Linked DNA regions of Homo sapiens: region 1 is linked to region 2. Evidence: fine-mapped expression QTL. A gene starts in region 2. The other region holds a variant in brackets. All regions are shown on one strand. Distances are between the middles of the regions.

Evidence for each region. PIP is the estimated chance that this variant, and not a neighbour inherited with it, causes the effect.
Region 1: its variant is fine-mapped to the expression of SLC9A7 in stomach (GTEx, PIP 0.97).

The regions. Positions count from the first base shown.
Region 1 is chrX:46,777,480-46,789,558 of GRCh38, reverse strand. No RefSeq gene overlaps it. Among named protein-coding and RNA genes, the nearest start is that of SLC9A7, 24 kb to the right of the region's middle. The variant T/G (reference allele first, on the strand shown) is at 5,150.
Region 2 is chrX:46,755,930-46,768,008 of GRCh38, reverse strand. It overlaps SLC9A7 (solute carrier family 9 member A7), which reads left to right and starts at 8,891. Exons shown (of 17, transcript NM_001257291.2): 1 at 8,891-9,304. The coding sequence starts at 8,980. RefSeq lists silencers at 8,610-8,959, 8,980-9,119.

The DNA.
Region 1 (12,079 bases), 22 kb before region 2:
TAAAAATACAAAAAATTAGCTGGGCATGGTGGTGGGCACCTGTAATCCCAGCTACTCGGGAGACTGAGGCAGGAGAATTGCTTGAACCCTGGAGGTAGAGGTTGAAGTGAGTTGAGATCACACCACTGTACTCCAGCCTGGGTGACAAGAGCGAAACTCCATCAAAAAGAAAGAAGAAAAGAAAAAGAAAAAAGAAAAAAAGAAGAAGTTAGCATGGTCAGATACACAGCTAGAAATCAGTAAATATTTTCCAGTGACAGAGGAAGGTTTTTGACTCCAGATCCCCAAAACGACCTCACTAGTGGAAACACAGCTGTAAATAACAAGTCTGAGTGAGGTAAGGTCACATCCAGCTTTTGAAAGCTCAGCAATTTGGCGACAGAGAACAGTTCAGACCCTTAGGCATGAGCACAGCCCTTATTTCCCACCCACGGCTCAACTAAACCAGCCTAGCCTGGGCCAGATGCTTTTCAGAGCTTAGAGCTGTGAGATTGGAATGCAAATCAGTGGCCCATTCATCTATCTGTGTCTTAGACCAGCCCTAGAGCTAATCCTGAAAGGATGTGCTGGGAGAGTAATGATGATATCAAAGTGATGTGCAAGAATGAAGACTGAGGTCACAAAATGCATTGCGGCCAGGGAGGGTGCCAAAGATTAGAGCCTCGCACCATGATTTTAGTAGACTGGTTGCATTAATGTTCCCAATTATTCACTCCTCCTCCTGTATCTGTACCTTTGACACGTAACTTTGAAACTCCTTTGATCGAAGAGACAGAGTATATTTCTGTGCCCCTTGATTCTGAGGCTAGCCATGTAACTTTCTTTGGACAATGGGATGTTAGCAGATGTGATGCATGCAGAGGTGTTTTTTGTTTGTTTGTTTTTTGGTTTTTTTTGAGTCAGAGACTTGCTGTGTCACTCAGGCTGGAGTGCTGTGGTGCGATCTCGGTTCACTACAACCTTCGCCTCCTGGGTTCAAGCGGTTCTCCTGCCTCAGCCTCCCCAGTAGCTGGGATTACAGGTGCGTGCCACCATGCCCAGCTAATTTTTGTATTTTTAGTAGGGTTTTGCCATGTTGGCCAGGCTGGTCTCGAACTCCTGACCTCAGGTGATCAGCCCGCCTCAGCCTCCCAAAGTGCAGGGATTACAGGCGTGAGCCACCATGCCCCGCCATGCAGAGGTTTTAAAAAGCACTTACAGGTATACACTTCTGCTCTTCCTCTTCCGCCCTCACCATGAGAACATGCTCAGGCTAGCCTGCCAGAGGATGAAATATATGTGGTGAATATATGAAAAATATATGGAACAGTCAAGTGACCCCAGTAGCAGCCAACGCCATCTGAGATAAGTTGACAGCTAGCCAACCCCGAGACAATAGAGTGATCCTAGTGAAGACCAGAGATATTCCCCGATTTGAGTTCAGTCTAAATTGTTGAGCCACATATTTGTGAGCTAAATACATGCTTATGGTTATAAGCCACTGAATTTTGGTGTAATTTGATATGCAGCAATATTGCAGAAATAGATAACAGTCAAGACTGTGTACATTCTGAGGATGTGCACAGAGATGAAGAATAGGTAAGCAAAAGCAGTGTCAGAGTGTCAGAGTAGTATTCATGGGTTATGCAGGGTAAAGCGTGCTTCCCTAGAGTGAAGCAAATGGTTCTGCCCTCTGCCCACACTCCATCTCCATTGCTATCCTTTCCACCCCTGTTTTTCAATAGTTATCCAGCATACATATTCTATATGTGTTTTCTTAGATTTATACCTAAGTATTTCATTTTTGGAGATAATATAAATGATATCGTTTTAACTTCTATTTGTAATTATTTGTTACTAATGTATAAAAAATAGAATTGATCTCTGTATGTTGGCCTTGTATTCAGTGACCTTGTTAAACTCACTTATTAGTTTCATGTCATTTTGTGGATTCTTTGGGATTTTCTATGTAGATAAACATCATGTTGTCTTCATACAGGGAAAAGTCTCTTCTTTTCTTTCTAACCTGTGTCCTTTTTTTGTGCCTAGTATAGTGGCTAGGACTTCCAGTACTGTCCCTCTTTGTAGACAACATGCCGAATAGTATATAATGATCACATGGCATTTATTCTTGGAATGCAAGACTGGTTCAATACTCAAAATTAATCAGCAAGGCCGGGTGTGGTGGCTGATGCATGTAATCCCAGCACTTTGGGAGGCCGAGGCGGGTGGATCACCTGAGGTCAGGAGTTCAAGACCAGCTTGGCAAATATGATGAAACCCCATCTACAAAAATACAAAAACTAGCCAGGTATGATGGCGGGTGCCTGTAATCTCAGCTACTCAGGAGGCAGAGGCTGGAGAATCGCTTGAACCCAGGGGGCGGAGGTTGCAGTGAGCCAAGATCGCACCATTGCACTCCAGCCTGGGTGACGGAGTGAGACTCTGTCTCAAAAACAAAACAAAACAAACAAAAAATTCAATCAACGGATTCCACTATATTAAAAAAGAATAAAAACCACATGACCACATCAATTGATGGAGAAAAAGCATTTGACAAATTCAACATCAATTTATTAAAAAAAAAAAAAACTCTCGGTAGGCCAGGCACAGTGGCTCACGCCTGTAATCCCAGCAATTTGGGAGGCCGAGGAGGGCGAATCATGAGGTCAGGAATTCGAGACCAGCTTGGCCAACATGGTGAAACCCCGTCTCTACTAAAAATACAAAAATTTAGCCAGGCGTGGTGGCATGTACCTGTAATCCCAGCTACTCGGGAGGCTGGGGCAGGAGAATCGCTTGAACCTGGGAGGTGGAGGTTGCAGTGAACTGTGATCATGCCACTGCACTCCAACCTGGGTGACAGAGTGAAAGTCCATCTCGCAGGGCAGCGGGGGGTGGGGCAAGGGGAAACAAACAAACAAACTCTCAGCAAACTAGGAAGATAAGGGAATTTGCACAATCTGAAAAAGGCATGCACAAACAAACAAGCAAAAACCCTATAGATAACATCATACTTAATGGTGAAAGTCTGAATGCTTAGGTTCACAGCAAAAATTTTAAATATATATATATGATAGAGATGAGGTCTCACTATGTAGCCCAGGCTGGTCTCAAACTCTTGAGGTCAAGCGATCCTCCCACCTCGGCCTCCCAAAGTGCTGGGATCACAGGCATGAGCCACCAAGCCTGGCCTCACAGCAAAATTAAGTGGAAATACAGAGTTCCCAGATGCTCCCTGATCCCACCCCACTCTAACAGCTCCCACCCCACTCTAACAGCTCCCACTATCAGCCTTCCCCACCAGAGTGGTACATTTGTTCCAACTGATGAACCTCCATTGACACATCATTATCACCCAAAGTCCACAGTGTACATTAGAGTTCACCCTTGGTGTACATTGAATGGGTTTGGAAAAATGTATAACAACATGTATCCACCATTGTAGTATCTTACAGCGTAGTTTCACTGCCCTAAAAATCCTCTGTGCTCCATCTATTCATCCCTCCCTCTCTCCTAACCCATAGTTTTCCAGAATGTCATATAGTTGGAATCATATAGTACGTAGCCTTTTCCTTTTTATTTTTTAAGACGAAGTTTCGCTCTTGTTGCCCAGGCTAGAGTGCAATGGTGTGATCTCAGCTCACCGCAACCTCCACCTGCCCGGTGCAAGGGATTCTCCTGCCTCAGCCTCCCGAGTAGTTGAGATTACAGGCATGCGCCACCATGCCCAGCTAATTTTGTATTTTTAGTAGAGACAGGGTTTCTCCATGTTGGTCAGGCTGGTCTCGAGCTCCCGGCCTCAGGTGATTCACTCGCCTCGGCCTCCCAAAGTGCTGGGATTACAGGTGTGAGCCACCGCCCCGGGCCATATGTAGCCTTTTCAGATTGGCTTCTTTCACTTAGTAATATACATTTAAGATTTCTTGTTTTTTGGTGGCTTGATAGTTCCTTTCTCTTTATTGCTGAATAATATTCTGTTCCCTGGATATACCATAGTTTATTTATCCATTTACCTACTGAAGGACATCTTGGTTGTTTCCAAGTTTTGGCAATTATGAATAAAGCTGCTATAAACATCTATGAGCAGGTTTTTGTGTGGCTACAGATGTTTACTTTCTAACCATTTGGCAAAATGTGCCTATAATTTGTATTTGTGTGTACTTCACAAGGAAATGTCTTTGTATCATATTTTTGTTGTTTTATTAAAACATTTAAACAACTTTTTAAATTGATAGATAAAATGATATGTGTTTGTCATGTACACCATGATGTTTCAAAGTATATACGCATTGTGGAATGACCAAATCTAGCTAATTAAAACATGTATCACCTCACATAGTTATCATTTTTATGGTGAGAACACTTAACATCCACTCTCTTAGCAATTTTCAAGAATACAATATCTTCTTATTAACTATAGTCACCATGCTGCACAGTAGATCTCTTGAACTTATTTCTCCCATGTAACTGAATTGAAACGTTTCAAAATGAGCAAATACATGAAAAGCACATATTGAAGCTTAATAATGCTACCTGTTATGATTAAGTGATATATATTCATCTCCTTCAAAAAAAGAAATTGTGTACCATCTATTTTTTTCTTTTTTGAGACAGGGTCTCACTTTGTTGCCCAGCCTAGAGTGCAGTGGCATGATCACAGATCACTGCAGCCTGGACCTCCTGGGCTCAAAGCCTCCTGAGTAGCTGGGACCAAGCCCAGCTAATTTTTTTGTATAGAAGGGATTTTGCCATGTTGCCCAGGCTGGTCTCAAACTCCTGGGCTCAAATGATTCACTTGCCTTGGCCTCCCAAAGTGCTGGGATTACAGGGGTGAGCCACCATGCCTGGCCATCTATTTCTAATTAATTAATTAATTTTTTTTTTAGAGATGAGGTCTCACTCTGTTGCCCAGGCTGGAGTGCAGTGATGCAATCATAGCTCACTGCAGCCTTGAAATTCTGGCCTGTGGTTGGTGATTGCAGAAGTGATTCTCCCACCTCAGCCTCCCAAAGAGCTGGGATTGCAGGCATGTGCCACCATGCCCAGCCTTAAGGGAAGGATACCATTTAAATCAAGGGGCCTGACCAAGGCCAAACATGGCAAATATAGAATTTTTTTACAATACATTTCTGTTAACAAAATAGTTCTACTTTTTATAAAGATAGAT[T/G]ATGGCACAAAGGCCTTATTCTGCCTTATCAGGTATTTCCATAAATATACTTTCCTTTATATGTGCTTCCAGGCTTTGCTTAAGGTGTTAAAGGTGCTAACATTTTAAAGTAACCAGCAAGCTTTATAAGCATTATCTCAATCACTATTTTTAGATCACCAGTAAGACTATTCAGACACTTACTTGACTCTTGTGGGCCAGGCTTGGACTTACCTTTCTTCTCCAGGCCTGTGCCCTTCATGTGTTTGAGAATGTGAGAGTGTACGTGTATTGGGGCTGTGGGGAGACAGCTCAGAGGAATACCAGACACTGGAGACTCGGAGGGGTGGGATGTGAGAGGCGGGTGAGGGATGAGAAATTAATGGATGCATGTGCACTATTCGGGTGACGGCTACACTAGATGCCCAGACTTCACCACTACGCAACATATTCATGTAATGAAACTGCACTTATGCCCCCAAATCTATACATATTTTTAAAATTTTTTTAAATAATAAAAAAGAAATGAAGATCTACTTGTCTTGGGTTTGGCTGCAGCTGTTGCACGCAGACATCTCCAACCCTGCCCAGCACTACTCCACGGTGCTCTAGCCTTTCCTCGAGTCCCCTGTATGCTGCAGTCCCCATCAGCCCCACCCCCATGCTGATGTCCACTCTCAAGGCCAAGGATGAATGACATCTTGTGAGGGTTGTTCCTTCACTATGTTCCTCCTATGTGCTCCAGCAATGTGTCTTTTTTTTTTTTTTTTTTTGAGATGGAGTTTCGTTCTTGTTGCCCAGGCTAGAGTGCAATGGTGCAATCTTGCCTCACTGCAACCTCTGCCTCCCGGATTCAAGCGATTCTCCTGCTTCAGCCTCCCGAGTAGCTGGGATTACAGGCATGCGCCATCACACCTGGCTAAGTTTGTATTTTTAGTAGAGATGAGATTTCTCCATGTTGGTCAGGCTGGTCTCGAACTCCCAACCTCAGGTGATCCACCCGCCTCGGCCTCCCGAAGTGCTGGGATTACAGGCATGAGCCACTGCGCCTGGACTTAGTAATGTCTTATTTACCCAAGTAAATGAGCTTTCTGGGGTAGGAATTGCTGTACATAAGGGAATTGTCCGTGGAACTCAAGTTACTCCTTTTAATGACAATTTTTTTCTTTAAAATTTAACCCTTTTAATAGAAAAAAATCTTGAAATAGATTGTAAAATTATTGCCTTCTTTTAAGATGGATAATAAATATAATTTAGCCTTTCTTTGGTATGCCATAGTTCCATGGGCACCAAGATATGTGGGACAATTTGCCCTATGGCCCACCCTGGAGTGCTTTATACTAGTTCTAACAGCTATGGTTTTAATATAACACTTGTTTTCCCCCTTATATAAAAGTATTATGGGTTAGGTGTGGTGACTCATGCTTGTAATCCCAGCACTTTTGGAGGCTGAGGCGGGCAGATGGCTTGAGGTCAGGAGTTTGAGACCAGCCTGGGCAACATGAGGAAACCCCCGTCCCTACAAACAACAACAACAACAAAAACACAAAAACAAATCCAAAAATTTAGCCAGGCATGGTGGCATGCGCCTGTAGTTCCAGCTACTTGGGGGGCTGAGGCGAGAAGACCGCTTGAGCTCAGGAGGCCAAGACTGCAATGAGCCACATTTGTGCACTCCAGCCTGGGTGACAAAGTAAGACCCTGTCTCAAAAAAAAAAAAAAAAAAAAAAGTATTATGTCCTTATAGGAAATTTGGAAAGTCATAAAAAGGGTGAAGGAAAATTGCTCTTTTAGGCCTAGAAACATTTTGGTGCATTTTCTTTCACTCTTTTAAAAGACTTATGTGAGCCTGTTTTTTCTCTATAGCTTATTTATTCAATTTAGTTGCAATCTCTTACATCTTACCTAAATGGTTCTGTCTCCTCTCTCTCTTTTAACCAGTTAGTCATCCCTTCTCACTGCCTCTAGGGTCACTTGGCCTGCTACCTCCTCGCTTCTATAATCTGTGACTTCTAAATTGTGAGCTGAGGGAACAAGTTTACCATGATCATTCAACTGTAAGTAAAGGTAACAATGGACAGGCTCTGCAGGAAAGCCTGAAGCTCACATGACCAGAGTCAGATTTGTGGGCTTCGAGATGGCTGCTCTAGCCAATCAGCAGACATTTTTGTTTTCCTGCCCCATCCCACATGTGTGAGATTCTCAGAACGTCTACTCTCACTTTTCTTTTGAGACAGGGTCTCACTCTGTCACCCAGGCTGGAGAGCAGTGGCATGATCATGACTCGCTGGGATCCTTGACCTCCCAAGCTCAAGTGATCCTCCCACATCAGTCTTTCAAGTAGCTGGGACCACAGGTACGAGCCACCATACTCAGCTAAATTTTTGTCTTTTATAAAGATAGGATCTCACTGTGTTGCAGTCTGGTCTTGAACTCCTGGCTCAAGCAATCCTCCAGCCTTGGCCTTCTAAAGTGCTGGGACTGCAGGCACATGACACCACGCCTGGCCTACTCTCACTTTAAACGTGTTGATGTTATTCTGCAAGTGCAGAATGAGTATATATTCAATCAGACTTTAAATATCTTGAGGGTAGAGACTCTCTATCTTCTAACAATACCTTGTATTATGCTCTACACACAGCAGGTATTCCAGAAATGATTTTTGAATAGCATTCAATGAGATATTCCCAGTCTCATTCCAGAATCCATTTTACCTATATCCTTTACCTTTACCGAAGTTTAGACTTTTAATCGGAATAAGGTTAAAACTGACTCAAGGAGTGATTGTGGGGGACATTTCTGAGCAAAAAGATTTTCACCCACTGCTGACCACACCTCCGAGCTTTCATTTGGCAAATTATTCCTCTCCCACCCTCACACTCTCAGTGTGAAGCATATGACCTACACCTGAAGAAAATCAGCATCACCTTCTCCCAGCCACAGTGATTGGTTCAGAGTTGGGCACTTGACCCATGCTAGCCCTGTTACTGTGAACTTCAAGAATTCTGGGGATGCTGGGATAAAGATGCTTGCTCCTTTTTGCTGGGTGTGAAATGGAAGGATATCATCCCAGGAGTTCCTGGCAGCCACCTTCCAGCCATGAGGTGGCCTCTTATGAATGGGTCAACAGACAGATGAGAGCAGAGTTGTACTGAGAGACGGAAGACAGGGCTTGATTGTATATTTTTGAGCTCTGTATTCCCATGTGCAACCATGGCCAAAGCCAAATTTACCAATGGCCAGCTAAGTTACCGTGATGGTTAATATTAGGTGTCAACTTGATTGGATAGAAGGGTAGCTACATAGCTGGTATTGTTTCTGGGTGTGTCTGTGAGGCTGTTGCCAGAGGAAATTGACATTTGAGTCAGTGGGCTGGGAAAGGAAGACCTATCCTCAATGTGGGTGGACACCATTCCATTGGCTGCTAGCACAGCTAGAACGAAGCAGGTGGAAGAAGGTGGGATAAGCTGGCTTGCTGAGTCTTCTGGCTTCCTTCTTTTTCCTGTGCTGGATGCTTCCTTCTGCTCCTCCTGCCCTTGGACATCAGACTCCAGGTTCTTTGGCCTTTGGACTCTGGGACTTGGACCAGTGGCTTACCGGGGACTCTCAGGCCCTTCAGCCTCCGACTGGGGGCTGCACTGTCGGCTTCCCTGGTTTTGAGGTTTTTGGACTCCGACTGAGCCACTACCGGCTTCTCTCTTTCCTCAGCTTGCAGACGGCCTGTCATGGGACTTTGCCTTGTGATCGCGTGAGCCAGTTCTCCTTAGTAAAGTCCCTTTCATATATACATATGTCCTATTGGCTCTGTCCCTCTGGAAAACCCTGACTAAACAGTTACTGTGGCAGGCTGGGTCCCTCAGAGGCTGACACTGAGATGGAGTTCGGGATGCAAAGTGTTTATAAGGAAGGGATAATACCTGTGAAAGAAGGATGACACAGGATTGGGCCGAGCGATGCTGAGCGATGCCGAACGATGCTGAAGCAGGTCTGATGAAGCCTTAGCCAGTCCAGCAGGGAGCTCTGGAAGTATTTTCAGTCAGAGTTGTCTCAAGGTGGGTGTTTACAGCTCTGCCTCACACAGTCATTGGATGTGGGTTGTATAGAGAGGGTATGACTTCAAGGGAGATGGCTCTCCCCACCAGAGGCAGCCCCAGAAGAAACTGACAAACTGGAGCTGGAGCTATCTGGCGACTGCAGTCCCTGCAGCTGTGCAGCAAGTCCTTCCCTTGAGGGGGATCCGGGTGGTGCATCTCTGTGTCTAGTGCTGTTACGAAGGATTATTATCATTATTATTATATGATGCTAAACAAGTTTGAGCTGAGTTTCCTGGCACTTGAAGCCACAAAAGTTCAAACTAATACAGTAATTGTTTTCATAGCCAAATTCCCACTGTGATTTGACAATGAGACTTGAGCTATCAAGTTCTCTCAAAACTGCCAAGAAGGTTTGTTTCTCGAAAGAAATGGACATTTGCAGTTATCCACTGAAAACGCTGGACCTACAGGAGTATTAAGAAAATTAGTGTAGGCTGGGCAAGGTGGCTCACACCTATAATCCCAGCACTTTGCGAGGTTGAGGCGGGTTAATCACCTGAGGTCAGGAGTTCGGGACCAGCATGATCAACATGGTGAAACCCTGTTTCTACTAAAAATACAAAAATTAGCCCGCTGTGTTGGTGCATGCCTGTAATCCCAGCTACTCAGGAGGCTGAGGCAGGAGAATCGCTTAAACCCGGGAGGCGGAGGCTACACTGAGCCGAGATCATGCCACTGTACTCCAGTCTGGGCGATAGAGTGAGACTCTGTCTCAAAGGAAGGAAGGAAGGAAAGGAAGGAAGAAAGGAAGGAAAGGAAGGAAGGAAGGAAGAAAGGAAGGAAGGAAGGAAGGAAGGAAAGCAAAGCAAAGCAGGGTATTCTGCTGATAGCCTGTAGTATATTTCAAGAACACTGCTTTAACATATAGGGAAGATTTTGATATTAAAGATGTGTTTAAACACTGAAGTGATCTACTAATGTAGTAAATATATACTGAATGTCTATTATGTCCTTTATGTATGTTAAGTCATTTAGCCTTCATTAGATAGTGAGATAGGTACTATTATCCCCATTTTACATATGAAGACAGTGAGGCACAAAGAAAGTAAATAATGTATCTAGGGTCATACAGACAGTTCATGGTAGAGCCCAGGCTTAAACCCAAGCAGTCTGGCTTTAAAGCTTGTGCTCTTAACCATTATGCCACAGCTTCTTTAAAATAATTTTACTAATTTCTTTAAAAGGTCTGCCGTCTAGATTACAGGCGTGAGCCCCCGTGCCTGGTCTCACTGTCACGATCTCCAGGCTGGATTGCAGTGGCACCATCTCAGCTCACTGCCACCTCGACTTCCTGGGCTCAAGCTATCCTCCTGTGTTGGCTACCCAAGAAGCTGGGACTACAGGCGCGCACCACCACGCCCAGCTAATTTTTGTATTTTTTGTAGAGACGTGGCTTTGCCACATTGGCCAGGCTGGTCTTGAACTCTTGGGCTCAAGCGATCCTCCTGTCTTGGCCTCCTAAAGTACTGGGCTTATAGGTGTGAGCCACCATGCCTGGCCACATTTCTAAATTCATATTAAAGCAGATTAAAAAGAAGAGTGCCTAAGGAAGAACATCATCTATATTTACTCTCTAGCCATGGAGATAACAATGTTTTCATTTAAAAAATATATATTGAGCATGTAAACCAAATAGTATCTGAGACAGGTCTCAATCCATTTAGAAGTTTATTTTACCAAGGTTAAGGACATGCCCGGAGGAGAGGAAACAGAGAATCACAGAAACAGTCTGTGGTCTGTGCCTTTCTCCAAAGATGATTTTGAGGGCTTCAGTTTTTAAAGGGGAAAAGCAGGCTGGAGGGGAAAGAGGGAGGAGGGTATGATATTCACATGTTGCAAGAGAAAAGGAGCAGGTAGGGGAAGAGTCAATTATGTATTCGTCTCTCACTCAGTAAATCACTGTACATAAGATAAGGTGAACACAGAGTAGCTACCTGCAGAGATATTTAACCTTTTATCTGTAGCTATCAGCTTAGGAACAAAGGGAAAGGCAGCTTCTGGCATGACTCAGCTTTCAGCTTCATTTTTTCCTTTTGGCAGTGAATTGGTGTCCTGCGTTTTTATTTTCCTTTCACAAGCCGCTAGAATCTGCCAAGCTCTTTGTGGGGTAAACAAGACAGATAATATTTCTGATCTCAAAGCTTAATGTTAATGTAATGGGAGAGACACAAACACACAAATAAGCCAAACCAAGATAGCAGCAGATTGTGAACACTGCTGAGAAAGAATTAAAGAGAGCGCTGTAGTAGTAACTGGCAGGGGAAGAGGCGCATTGAGATAGGGTCGACAGGAAAGGTCTCTTTGTGACAGTGATGTGTAAACTGAAACTTGGAGGCTAAGAAGGAGCCAGCAGAGAGGCAGGCAGAGAGATAGGGTGGTAAGATATTTTCAGCCAAGGGAACAGCACGTGCAAAGTCCCTGATACAAGTTCCCACACAAGAAAAACATTGCCCCTACTATTTTTCTCTGCCACTTAAAAACAGTACAAATTTTCGCTCCCTAGAGCAACAGTAAACTGCTACCCACAGGTATCCCTTCCACTTCTGTTGTTTTATTTCATTCATTAGCAGATAATGATGTTTTATGCTTATAACTATAAAGGCTGTGCAAGCAAGTAGAAGAGGTAAATCTCAACACAATGATATGATCTGGTCAGATTGACCATCAGCGCTGCCTCTCACACTCATCTTCTAAGCGATGCTGTTACTGGAAAGGGATCCTGATCCAGACCCCAAGAGAGGGTTCTTGGATCTTGCATAAGAAAGAATTCAGGGTGAGTCCCTAGAGTAAAGTGAAGCCAGCTCTATTAAGATGCTGAGGCAGATGGATCACTTGAGGTCAGGAGTTCGAGACCAGC
Region 2 (12,079 bases):
CAGGGAAGAGGTAGGATTACCAGAACCTGGCGGTACAGAGCAAAGGCCATGCAGAATAGATATGAGGTCCTCTTAGGATGCCTGGTTGCTGCTGCTGAGGTGCTGCCAATGGGAGGCACTTGTGGGAGAGTGGAAGGCAGCCAGAGGGGAGAAGCTTCCTTCCTGGTTCTTTTTTTTTTTTTTTCCTTGAGACTGAGTCTCCCTCTGTCACCAAGGCTGGAGTACAGTGGCGCAACCTTGGCTCACTGCAACCTCTGCCTCCTGAGTTCAAGTGATTCTCCTCCCTCAGCCTCCTGAGTAGCTGAGAATACAGATGCCGCCAACACACCCGGCTAATTTTCCTATTTTTAGTAGAGATGAGGTTTCACCATGTAGGCCAGGCTGGTCTCAAACTCCTGACCTCAAGTGATCCGTTCGCCTCGGCCTCCCAAAGTGTTGGGATTACAGGCGTGAGCCACCACGCCCCGCCAATGCTAGTGTTTATGCCCATATATTTCATAGTATCCTGTGGGTGTGCCTGAATTTAAGGTTTCAGTTTTCCTCATCTGCCACATTTCAGGGTAACTGAACCCAGGACATAGCTCTTGGGGACTTCTTGAGGCCTTAACCACCGTCTTAAACTAATATAAAGTTGTAGCATGTCCAAGGGTAAGCAGAGGATTTGTTAACACATGACAGAGAGAAATTATTTAAGTTAACTTACAGCAATATTTATTTTTCTTGTACAATTATTTGAATTTAACACATGTACAGATTCATACGACCATCACTACAATCAGAATATAGAATGGTTCCATCATCCCCAAACCTCCCTTGTGTTATCCCTTTATAGTTATACGCTTCCCCTCCCACTTAGCCCCAGACACTACTGATCCATTCTCTGTAACTATACTTTTATCATTTCAAGAATGTCATAAAATGGAATAATATAGTGTGCAACCTTTTGAGACTCACTTCCACTCAGCATAATGCCTTTGATATTCATCCAAATTATTAGTATATCAATTGTTCATTCATTTTTATTGCTGAATGGTATTCCATTGTATGAACATACAACAGTTTTTTATTCATTCACCCACTGAAGGACATTTGGGTTGTTTTCAGTTTTTGGCTATTATAAATAAAGCTGCTAATAACATCCATGTAAAAAGCTGGGCGCAGTGACTCACACCTGTAATCCCAGCACTTTGGGAAGCCGAGGCGGGTGGATCACTTGAGGTCGGGAGTTCAAGATCAGCCTGGCCAACATGGTGAAACCCTGTCTCTACTAAAAATACAAAAATTAGCTGGGCATGGTAGCACATGCCTATAATTCCAGGTACTTGGGAGGCTGAGGCATAAGAATTGCTTGAACCTGGGAGGCGGAAGGTGCAGTGAGCCAAGATTGTGCCACTGCACTCCAGCCTGGGTGACAGAGCGAGACTCTGTCTCAAAACAACAACAAAAAAATCCATGTGCAGGTTTTTGGATGAACACATTTTCACTTCCCTTGGATATATACATATATACCTAGGAGTGAGATTGCTTGTTCTTATGGATAAATGCATGTTAACTTTATAAGAAACTGCCAAACTCTCTTCCAGTGTGGTTTACCATTTTGCATTCCCACCAGCAATGTAAGAGAGTTCCAGGGGCTCTTCGTTCTCATCTCCAATTGGTGTTGTCAGTATTTTTTATTTAGTCATTCTATTTCTAATATTCTAAGTCAATCTAATAGGTGGCAATCATGGTATTAATTTTTATTTCCCTAATGGCTAATGGTGTTAAACATCTCTTCATGTAATGATTTCTCATCCACATACCGTCTTTTGTAAAGTGTTAGTTTAAACCTTCTGCCCATTTTTCAACTGGGTTGTTTTCTTATTAAGTTTGGAGAATTTCTTATGTACTATGGATATAAGTCCTTTGTTGAATATGTTTTGTAAATATTTTCTCCCACTCTGTAGCTTGTCTTTTCATTACTTTAAAAGTGTCTTTTGCAGAGCAAAAACTTTTAATTTTGATGCAGTCCAATTATCAATTTTTTCATATAAGGATTGTGCTTTTGGTGTCATATCTAGGCACTCTTTGCTTAATCCAAGATCAGGAAGGTGTTCTTATGTTTTTTTGTAACTGTTTCACAGTTTTGTATGTTACATTTAAATCTATAATCTACATAAAATTCATTTTTGTACAAGGTATAAGATTTAGCTCAAGGTTCATTCTTTTTGTGTATGGATGCCCAATAATTCCAAACAATTCATTGAAAAGAACGTACCTTGTCCATTTAATTGCTTTTGCACTTTTGTGAAAAATCAATTTTGTATGTAGACCTATTTCTGGACTCTAATTTTGTCCCATTGATGTATATATCTATTCCTTCACCAATGCTACCCTGCCTTAATTATACTTTATTACTTTACATAGTAGCATTACAGTACATCTTAAATTGGATAGTGTGAGGCCTCCAATTTTATTCTTCTTTTTCAAAATTGTTTTGGCTAGTCTGTTACTTTGACTTTCCTATTAATTTTATATTTCACATGGCTATATTCACCAAACATTTTGCTGGGATTTTTATGGAAATTTTATTAAATCTGTATATCAATTTGGAGAGATTTGACATCTTTGCTTAGTCTTTCAATCCATGAACATGGCATGTCTCTTCATTTATTCAGGTCTTCTTTGATTTCTTTCATCAACATTTTATAGATTTTAGCATATAGATCCTGGACATGTTTTGTTAAAAATTTATACCTAAATATTTTTCTTTTATGCTATTGTGAATGATACATTTTAAAGATTTTTTGGCCAGGTGCAGTGGCTTACACCTATAAACCCAGCACTTTGGGAGGCCGAGGCAGGCGGATCAGGTGAGGTCAGGAGTTCGAGATCAGCTTGGCCAGCACAGCAAAACCTTGTCTCTACTAAAAATACAAAAATTAGCCAGGTGTGGTGGTGGGTGCCTGTAATCCCAGCTTGGGAGGCTGAGGCAGGAGAATCACTTGAACCCTGGAGGCGGAGGTTGCAGTGAACCGAGATCGCACCACTGCACTGCAGCCTAGGTGACAGAGCCAGACTCCACCAAAAAAAAAAAAAAATCTCCAGTTGCACATAGCCTGTATATAGAAATATGATTGGTTTTTGTGTGCTGACCTTGCACCTTGAGACCTTGCTAAACTCGCTTATTTGGTTCTAGGATTTTGTAGATTTCATGGGATTTTTCTAAGTAGATGATCATATTATCTATGAATAGGAGAATTTTTCTAATATCCTTTGAGAATTTCTCTTTTTTCCTCCCTTTTCTTTTTGTTCCCTCTGTTTTTAGTTCCTCTGTTTCCCCAGCATTCCATTAAAATTTACATATTGTGATTTTTGCTATATACGTATGCCTTTTATTTCGTTTTTCTGTCTTAGTGCACTGACTTGGAGTTCCAATACAATGTTGACTAAGAGTGGTGATAGTGGACTTCCTTGCCTTTTCCCGACCTTGGGGGGAAAGAATTCAGTCTTTTAAGAATAATGCTAGATATTCTGTGCGGTTTTTTTTTTTGGGGGGGGCGGGTATCTGCTCTTTATCAGGTCAAAGAAGTTCCCTTTTATTCCTATTTTGCTGAAAGCTATCATGAATGGATGTTGAATTTTGTCAGTGCTTTTTTCCGCATCAGTGAATATGATCAGGCAGCTTTTCTTCTTTAGACAGTAAATATGGTGGATTGCATTGAGTGATTTTCTCATGTTGAACAAGCCTTGTAATCCTAGGATAAATACCACTTGGTCATGGTGTACACTTCTTTTTATACATTGTTAGATTCAATTTACTAATATTTTGTTAAGAATTTTTATGTCTAAGTTCATGAGAGATATTGGTATGTAGCTTTCTTTTCTTCAACTGTCTGACTCTCTAGAAGAGACTGTACAGTATTGGTGTTATTTCTTCACACGGAAATCTATTTTTGTTGGATGTATTATTTTTGGTTAACAGTTCTTTCAGCACATTAAAAATGCTGTGCATGTCTTTATGACCTTCTTGGTTTCTGATGAGAAATCCGTAGTCATCTGAATTGTTGTTACCCTGTATGTAATATTTCATTTTTATCTTTCTGCTTTAAACATATTTTTTTGTTTTTCTTTTCAGCAGTTTGAATATAATGTGTCTGTGCTTTGATTCTTTGGGCTTATCCTGCTTGGGTTTTGCTGAGGTTCTTCAATCTGCAGGCTTGTGTCTTTTGCTTTATCTGGAATGTTTTCAGTTATTATATTTTCACATCTTTTTTTCTGTACCACACTGTTTCTCTTCTCCTTCTGTAACTCTAAAGACACAAATGTTAGATATTTTATTATCTCCTATAGGTCTTTGTGGCTCTATTTATTTTTCAGTTTTTCCTCTCTGCTATTCAGGTTGGATAATTTCTATTGATCTATTTTCATATTTACTGACTCTTTCATCTCTATTCTGCTATTGCATCCATCCAATTTTAAAATTCCAGCTATTGTATTCTTCACTTATAAAATTTTTTTTTTTTTTTTTGAGATGGAGTGTCACTCTGTCACCCAGGCTGGAGCGCAGTGGTGCGATCTCAGTTCACTGCAAACTCCACCTCCCAGGTTCAAGTTATTCTCCTGCCTCAGCCTCCCAGTAGCTGGGATTACAGGCACATGCCACCATGCCCAGTGAATTTCTGTATTTTTAGTAGAGATGGGGTTTCACCATGTTGGCCAGGCTGGTCTGGAACTCCTGACCTTGTGATCTACCCGCTTTGGCTTCCCAAAGTGCTGGGATTACAGGTGTGAGCCACTGTGCCCAGCCTAAAATTTCAATTTGGTTCTTCTTTTATCTTTTACTCCTGTGCTGAGCCTTTTATCCTTACATTCATTTCAAGATTATTTGTCCTTACTTGTTGGAGCATCATTATAATAGCTGCTTTAAAGTCTTTTTCAGATAATTCCAACATTGGTGTCACCTCAGCAGTGGTGTCTGTTGTTTGCCTTTTCCCACCCAAGTTAAGATTTTCATGGTTCTTCAGGTATTGAATAATTTTGGGTTGTATCCTGGACATTTTGAATATTATGTTATAGGACTTTGTATCTTGTTTTAATACTATGGGGAAATATTCATATTTTTGTTTTAGTTTGTAATAGACATGCTTGGGTTTAGATCACAAGTTCTGACATGCCTTTTGTGGATAGTGGCTCCAAAGTCAATTCAGTTTTCAAAAGTTTGTAATGCTATTCAGATCTGTCCTACATGTGTTTTATCCAGTGGCTAGTCTAGGGCTTGGGTGGTGGTCTGCCTCTTAGTTCAGTTATCACAGTCTTTGGTATGCTGTTTAGGATCAGATCCATGTGCAGGTTGGGGTGAACCTAGGAGTTCATAAAAACTTTATGAGGACCTTTCCCAAGGTCCTCTCCTCTCTACTGTCTCCTTGGTACTTTGTAATGCCTTGGAGTTCCCCTTTTAATCAATTGGCAAGAAATCTAGACTATTTAATTTATTTAAAGACAGGGTCTCGCTCTGTCGCCCAGGCTGGAGTACAGTGGTGTGATCATAGCTCACTGTAGCCTCGAACTCCTGAGCTCAAGTGAGCCTCCCACCTTAGCCTCTTGAGTAGCCAAGACTACAGGCAAGCACTACAGTGCCCAGCTAATTTTATTTTTAAATGTTTCATAGAGACAGGGTCTTGCTACATTGCCCAGGCTGTTCTCCAACTCCTGGCCTCAACAAATCCACTCACCTCAGCCTCCCAAAATGTTGGGATTACAGGGGTGAGCCACTGTGCCTGTCCAGAAATCTGGGTCTTTATTTAATCCTCTCTGTTATGTATTTCCTGAAACTTTGCCCATGTCTTGGGCCAAGCATCAGGACAGAGAGAGTGAAAAAATATATATCATTGAGGTTTTGGCCCCACTGTCTTGGGACCAGAGCTACTTCAAACAGAGAGGAAGGTTCTCCCCTCCCTTAGCATTTTTTGGGTGCTTGAAGGTATTGCTGTCTCCATTGTCACTGTTGACTGAGGTGCCACAGTGGGATTGCTTATTGGCTAAAATGTAAGAGAATGGAGAAAAGAAAAAAAATGGCACATTTCTCCTACTTTCTCTGAATATTAGGAGACCAATTTTCTGCTTTTCCTGGAGCTCTCTCTGTCCATGTTGATGCTCCCTTCCGGGTGTTAAGCTGCCTTGAGTCCAGTCTAGTGGAGACTGGAGGAAAAAAATGGTAAACTCACCGCCAGTTCAGTTTTACTTCAAATTCTGTTGTTTTTCCTCAGTTTATGTGGTACAATTTACTTTCCAGAGTCCTCAAATAGTTGCTGCATGCATTCTGTTCACATTTTATAGCTGTATTCAGTAGCAGGTAATGGGTTTAGTGTGATTATTCTGTGTTAACTGAAATCAGAACTCCTGTATTATATAGGTTAGTTTTCACACATAAATATGTAGAGATAATGGAGTGTTTTCTTTGGTGTGTATTTGTGAATGGTTGGGACTAGTCTTTTCATACTCTACCCAAGGGAACTACTTTACATAATAAATACTCTTCTGGTTATCTATTGCTGTGGAAGAAACCACCCTCAAACTTAGTAGCTTAAAATAACACCAATCATTTTATTATGCTACAGTTGCAGATGTTGGTTAGGTTCAGCGACATGGTTCTTGCTTGGGGCCTCTCATATGTCTACAGTAAGATGGTGGCTGGGAATGAATTGATTTGAAGACTCATTCATTCACATGTGTGGCATTTGGGCTGGGAACACTCAAAAAGTTGGGTCTCCTGTGGCATCTACCTCTATTGCTACATGGTCTCTCTACATGGTTTCTTCAGTATGTCAGCTTCCAGGTAGCTAGATTTCTTTGTCTGTTTGTTTGTTTTTTTGTTTTTGGAGGCAGGGTCTCACTCTGTCACTCAGGCTGGAGTGCAGTGGTGCAATCTTGGCTCACTGCAACCTCTGCCTCCCAGGTTCAAGTGATTCTCGTGCCACCACCTCCCAAGTAGCTGGGATTACAGGCACACACCACCACACCCGGCTAATTTTTGTATTTTTAGTGGAGACAGGGTTTTGCCATGTTGGTCAGGCTGGTCTTGAACTCCTGACCTCAGGTGATCCGCCCGCCTTGGCCTCCCAAAGTGCTGGGATTACAGGCGTGAGCCACCGTGCCCAGCCTAGCTAGAGTGGAAAGTGACAGAATGAAACAGGCAGGAGCTAGATTACCTTTTATGACCTAGCCTCACAAATCACATAATCTCCATTACCACATTATATTCTTTGAGGGAGTCACAAAGGTCCACTGAGGTTCAAGGGGAGGGAACATAGATGCCCCTTCTTGATGGGGGATGGTAAGGTTCTGGGATTGGAAATATGATTGTGGCCATCTTTTTAAAAAATACAATCCGCCACAAATACTAAGAAGTCTGTACTTTTAAGGTAGCTCCTGAGTTGCCCTTTTCTAAAGAGAGAAATTCTGTCCTTGAGTACTGGGCACCCAAAGGGGCATAATATTATGACCAACACAGTGCCCATCCAGGTTTTAAGTATTTGCAATTTTATTGGAAACCTGTGTGGAACTTCAAGGTATACGGATGTTTGCAGGGGCTGAGTGACTGCCTAGAGGAGTTGGGAAAGGGGCTAGCTAAAATGTAGATGAAGAGATTTCCCTGCTTTAAAGAAACCACTAAACAGCTTTGGCAGAGTGCTCACCTACAGGGGAACCAGGAAGGCTGCAGTACTCCAAAGAGTTTTCTTACCTAATGCTACCTCTACCCTATTATTTCATTTGGTTAAGCATCACCTTCTTCAATGAATCCTCTTAAAAATGCAAACTCCCCTGGGAGCGAAAACATGGGCAGTTTTGGTAGAGATTTCAGAGTGGTTCAATAAACACATGAGTACAGTGCTAAGCACTGGGAACTCAGTGATTAATCTGATCTTGTTTCTTCCTTGACCAGAGGAGCAAGGTGGATTGAAGATTCTAGTTTTCCTGAGAATTTGTTCCAAGAGGCTTCATCCTTCAGAGTCCACGCCATAATTTTGTTCAGAGCTGGGTTTGGTCTTAAGAGTCATTAAAAGACTCTCTGAGCTACCAGGTGAGCAACATAAAAGAAAGGGTCATCAGGGTAACCCCCACCCCCCACCACCACCTTAGGACCAGCTACTGCTCATCTACCAGGAATGGCAAGCGTTCAGTTCCTTCTGGTTCAACCCTATTCCCCAAGGGGATTAGTAGCACAGCGCAGACGAAGTCTATTCCCTCAAGTGAGGAAGGAGATACTTCAATGCCCTCCCCCGATTCCAACTCCTTATCAGTCCTCACATTTGAGTCTGATGAGAACAGAGGTTTGAATGAAACCTAGCAGATTCTGGGGCTGGAAGGGCAACCTGAGAGATGAGGAAAGAGAGGTGTAGGGGCTAACGTGGCTTCGGGGCTGCTCGGTTCACTGACAGCCCCCACTTTACTGGGCCCAGGGCGGCTGCACACTGGCCTGAGATTAAACACTTCGCCGTGGCGCCAGAGACGGGACTCGAGACCGCAAGGCTAGTCACTCCAAGCCGATGCTCCCGCTAGGCGCCGGCGACCTCTGGCGTCCCCTTTCGGAAGTGCGGCGGCGGCTGCCCATGAACTGGCCCCACGACCCCAGACTGCCTGGGCAGGTGCGCCAGGACGGGGTGAGAAGCGCAGAGAGGCAAGCAGCCGGCGGCCGGCCCGCAGACCCGAGGGCAACACCCGGCCCCGCCTGGGTGGCTCGGTTGGCCCGCGGGGCGGTGCGGCGTGGCGCGGCCGGGGGACGAACAGGTGCGCGGGCGGGGGGCGGTGCTTGGGGATCCTGCGCACTGCGCGCGCCCCTCCCCCGCGCGGCCCCGGGCGCAGCCCCGGCCCGGCGCGAGTAGGAGGAGGAGCTGCAGCGGCCACGGCCACTCCGGCAGGTCCGCGGTGCTGCCAGAACCCGCCGACGGCGCGGGCTGCTGGTCCCCGCTCGGAGGAGGCGCGGGGGGCCCCGGGACCATGGAGCCTGGTGACGCGGCGCGCCCTGGCTCGGGTCGGGCTACCGGGGCGCCGCCGCCGCGGCTGCTGCTGCTGCCGCTGCTGCTGGGTTGGGGGCTGCGAGTCGCGGCCGCGGCCTCGGCCTCCTCCTCTGGGGCGGCGGCGGAGGACAGCAGCGCCATGGAGGAGCTCGCTACTGAGAAGGAGGCGGAGGAGAGCCACCGGCAAGACAGCGTGAGCCTGCTCACCTTCATCCTGCTGCTCACGCTCACCATCCTCACCATCTGGCTCTTCAAGCACCGCCGGGTGCGCTTTCTGCACGAGACCGGGCTGGCCATGATCTATGGTGAGCACCCCTGTTACACCCCCCGCCCTCCACACCCCTCGGCCGCCGCGCTCCTCCTGGCGCCGCGCGGTGCTCCCCCTTCACTTGCCAACGTGTTCCGTTTCTTTTACGTTTCCCGCTGCGACGGTGTTGGTTCCCAAGGTCAACTGTCTGCATTTTCTGGCTCTCTGCTACCGTTAAAAACAATTCCACCCCTATTCCACGTTTCTGCATTGGGAACCCAGGAAAATGAAAGGGACAGAGGTGGTCCGGTTCCGTCTGCCCCGTTCGGTCTCTGTTGCAAACCTCTTACCCACCACCTCCCGCTCCAGTTGAGCTCGATAGGGTGTGTGTGCCTGCGTGGTGGCTGGAGGTGGGTGGCTTCCCAGGTGACTGCATCACCTCAGGGGACAGGCCACAGTAGGGAGTGGGGACGAAGTCTGAAAGTGTCTTTGCTTGGGTATGGGTTAGTGGGGCCTCTTGGACGCCACATCCATGGTCAGCCTGGGTGGGTACCCACTCCTGAGGTCCACATTCCCAGGTCTCTTAATGATAAAGTCAGAGCATGAAGTGTGGTGAAAGGTGAGCAGTGGTCCAGGACCCAGAGTGGGTGGCACCACCATGTCAGGCCTGGACGAGGAGACAGGCACGCCTCCTGCTCTTATGTCCCGAGTGGAAAGTTATACCCAGTTACTTGCTTTCTCAAACGAAGAGGAGCTTTTGTATTCCTAAGACGGTAACAGGGAGTGAGTTTGAGATACATTTCCGAATGTATGAAGGGGAAAAGTCGTGGTTTTAATTCCGGAGTCAGCCATCTTTTGTTGTTAGGGGTGGGCTGATGCTACCATCCTTTTCTAGATTTAATGGTACACAGTGTGTTACATGCACAGTGGTCAGTACAAATCTCCCTTTATTACATGGATGTCAGCCATAATCTGAGTCATCCCTCTTCCTCTTCTGTGCCCCCTGCCTCCCCCCTCGCCCTGCCCATGACTCCAAAGTGGAGTCAGGTATTCTCTTTTTGAATGTAATTCAGTGGTGTTAAAGCCCCTGAATTGGCATCCTCACACGAAATAGACGAGCCACTTCATGATTGTTCCCAACGGGGAAAATTTTATTTTATCACATATACTGAGGGATTTCTTTATTCAGTTTCCATCCAGGTGCCCTGATAGAGAATGGAAAGCAGAAACCTTAACCTTTAATGTGAAAATTACCCTTGGTTCTGGGCCTTGCTTCTCATGTTTCTTGATTAGTTGTTGACAGCCGGGGCTCATGGCCACCAGGCCCTCGCAGCCAAACCGTGTAAGGGGCAAGCGCTGTTAAGAGCCCTCCAGTTTTGATGAAGTAGTGACCTACACAGATCTTGAAACAGGACCAGGTCTAAAACCGAGTTTGGTGATTGCGAATTATAGGTCTCAACACAGACTTTGGCCTCCATCCCTGACCGTTGTTGAGCTCTGTGGTTTGTGTCAGTTGGTGATAAATGACTGATGCCAGGCCTGCAGGTAAGCTGGGAGGTTTCCTGAGAAGACAGACAGGGGGGAATTGAAGCACGTGGTCATTGCAGGTGATTGACTCCAAGCCATGATGCAAATGAAAATTGCCTTTATATAGATAACCGTGAAAATATTTTTATTTAATAGGCCCTAGACCCAGTTTCTTAAAGGACAATGTGAAATAGGAGGTAGATTTGTCAGATTCGTAAACACATGCTCAAGGGATGGAAAATAAATGGGGATTTGAAAATATATTTTCTGGAGAGTACTCCGTGTTCTGAGGAGTTCAATCACCTTTATCTTAAGGCTTAAAGACAACAGTGGAATTTTCCTTTGCTGATACGTACTTTTAAAACTCACCTCCATCTTTCAGCCATTTGGTTGTGCTACAGTGTACTGTTTTATTTTGTGAACAATCAAGTTACAAATCTAGTGTAACTGATGGCTGTTCAGAAAAGGCAATATCATCTCAGCATTCCTGTGTAATTTTGTTCTATATCTTTGAGTATTAGTGTTTCTTTAAATGTATAAAGAAATTTAGTTTGTCAATATGTGATGTCTCAGGTTATGCCAAATATTAATATTTTAAGGACTGTCTGTAATTGTGAGAAAACATTTCTTCTTTCTCTCAGGTATGTTTGGTCTTCTACTGCAAGGTCCCCCTAATCTGAATTCTAATGTCATGTGATTAGCTAATTATTCATAGTATACTGAAGACTATTGGGATGGGGATTTTAAACTGATCTTAAAATTCAGTTTGCAAATCTTTTAAAAAATTGTCTGCATTTAAGATGTACAACATGATGTTTTGATAAACACAATGAAATGATTACTACTGTCAAGCAAATCTTTGAACACAAGTAAATCCAGTAAAGATTTTTCAAGACTTCTCTTTTTTAATAGTAAAAAATAAAATTTGATTTCTCTATATCAATAGAGGAAGTGAGTAATTGTCCTCTTGGCTCTGAATAAGGAACGACAAAAAGACCTAAGGAAACATTTTTAAAGTATCCACTGTGTGCTGGGAACCCAACTTAATTTCTGGAGGCAAACAATTTAACTTTTAAATGTTTATGAATGAAAGAGTTCAACTGTGAATTTCAAAACTCTTTATTTTGAGAAAAAGTTTTAAAATGTAATTTCTGCCACCTTTTTGTGTTTAAGTGACACTTTAATCTGAGAAGAACAGCGTTTACATTTAAGATAAATTTATATATATATAAATTTATATATTTGTTGGTATAGTCGTAAAATATCTCTGGAAGGACATGCAATAGATGAGTAACATTGGTTTCCT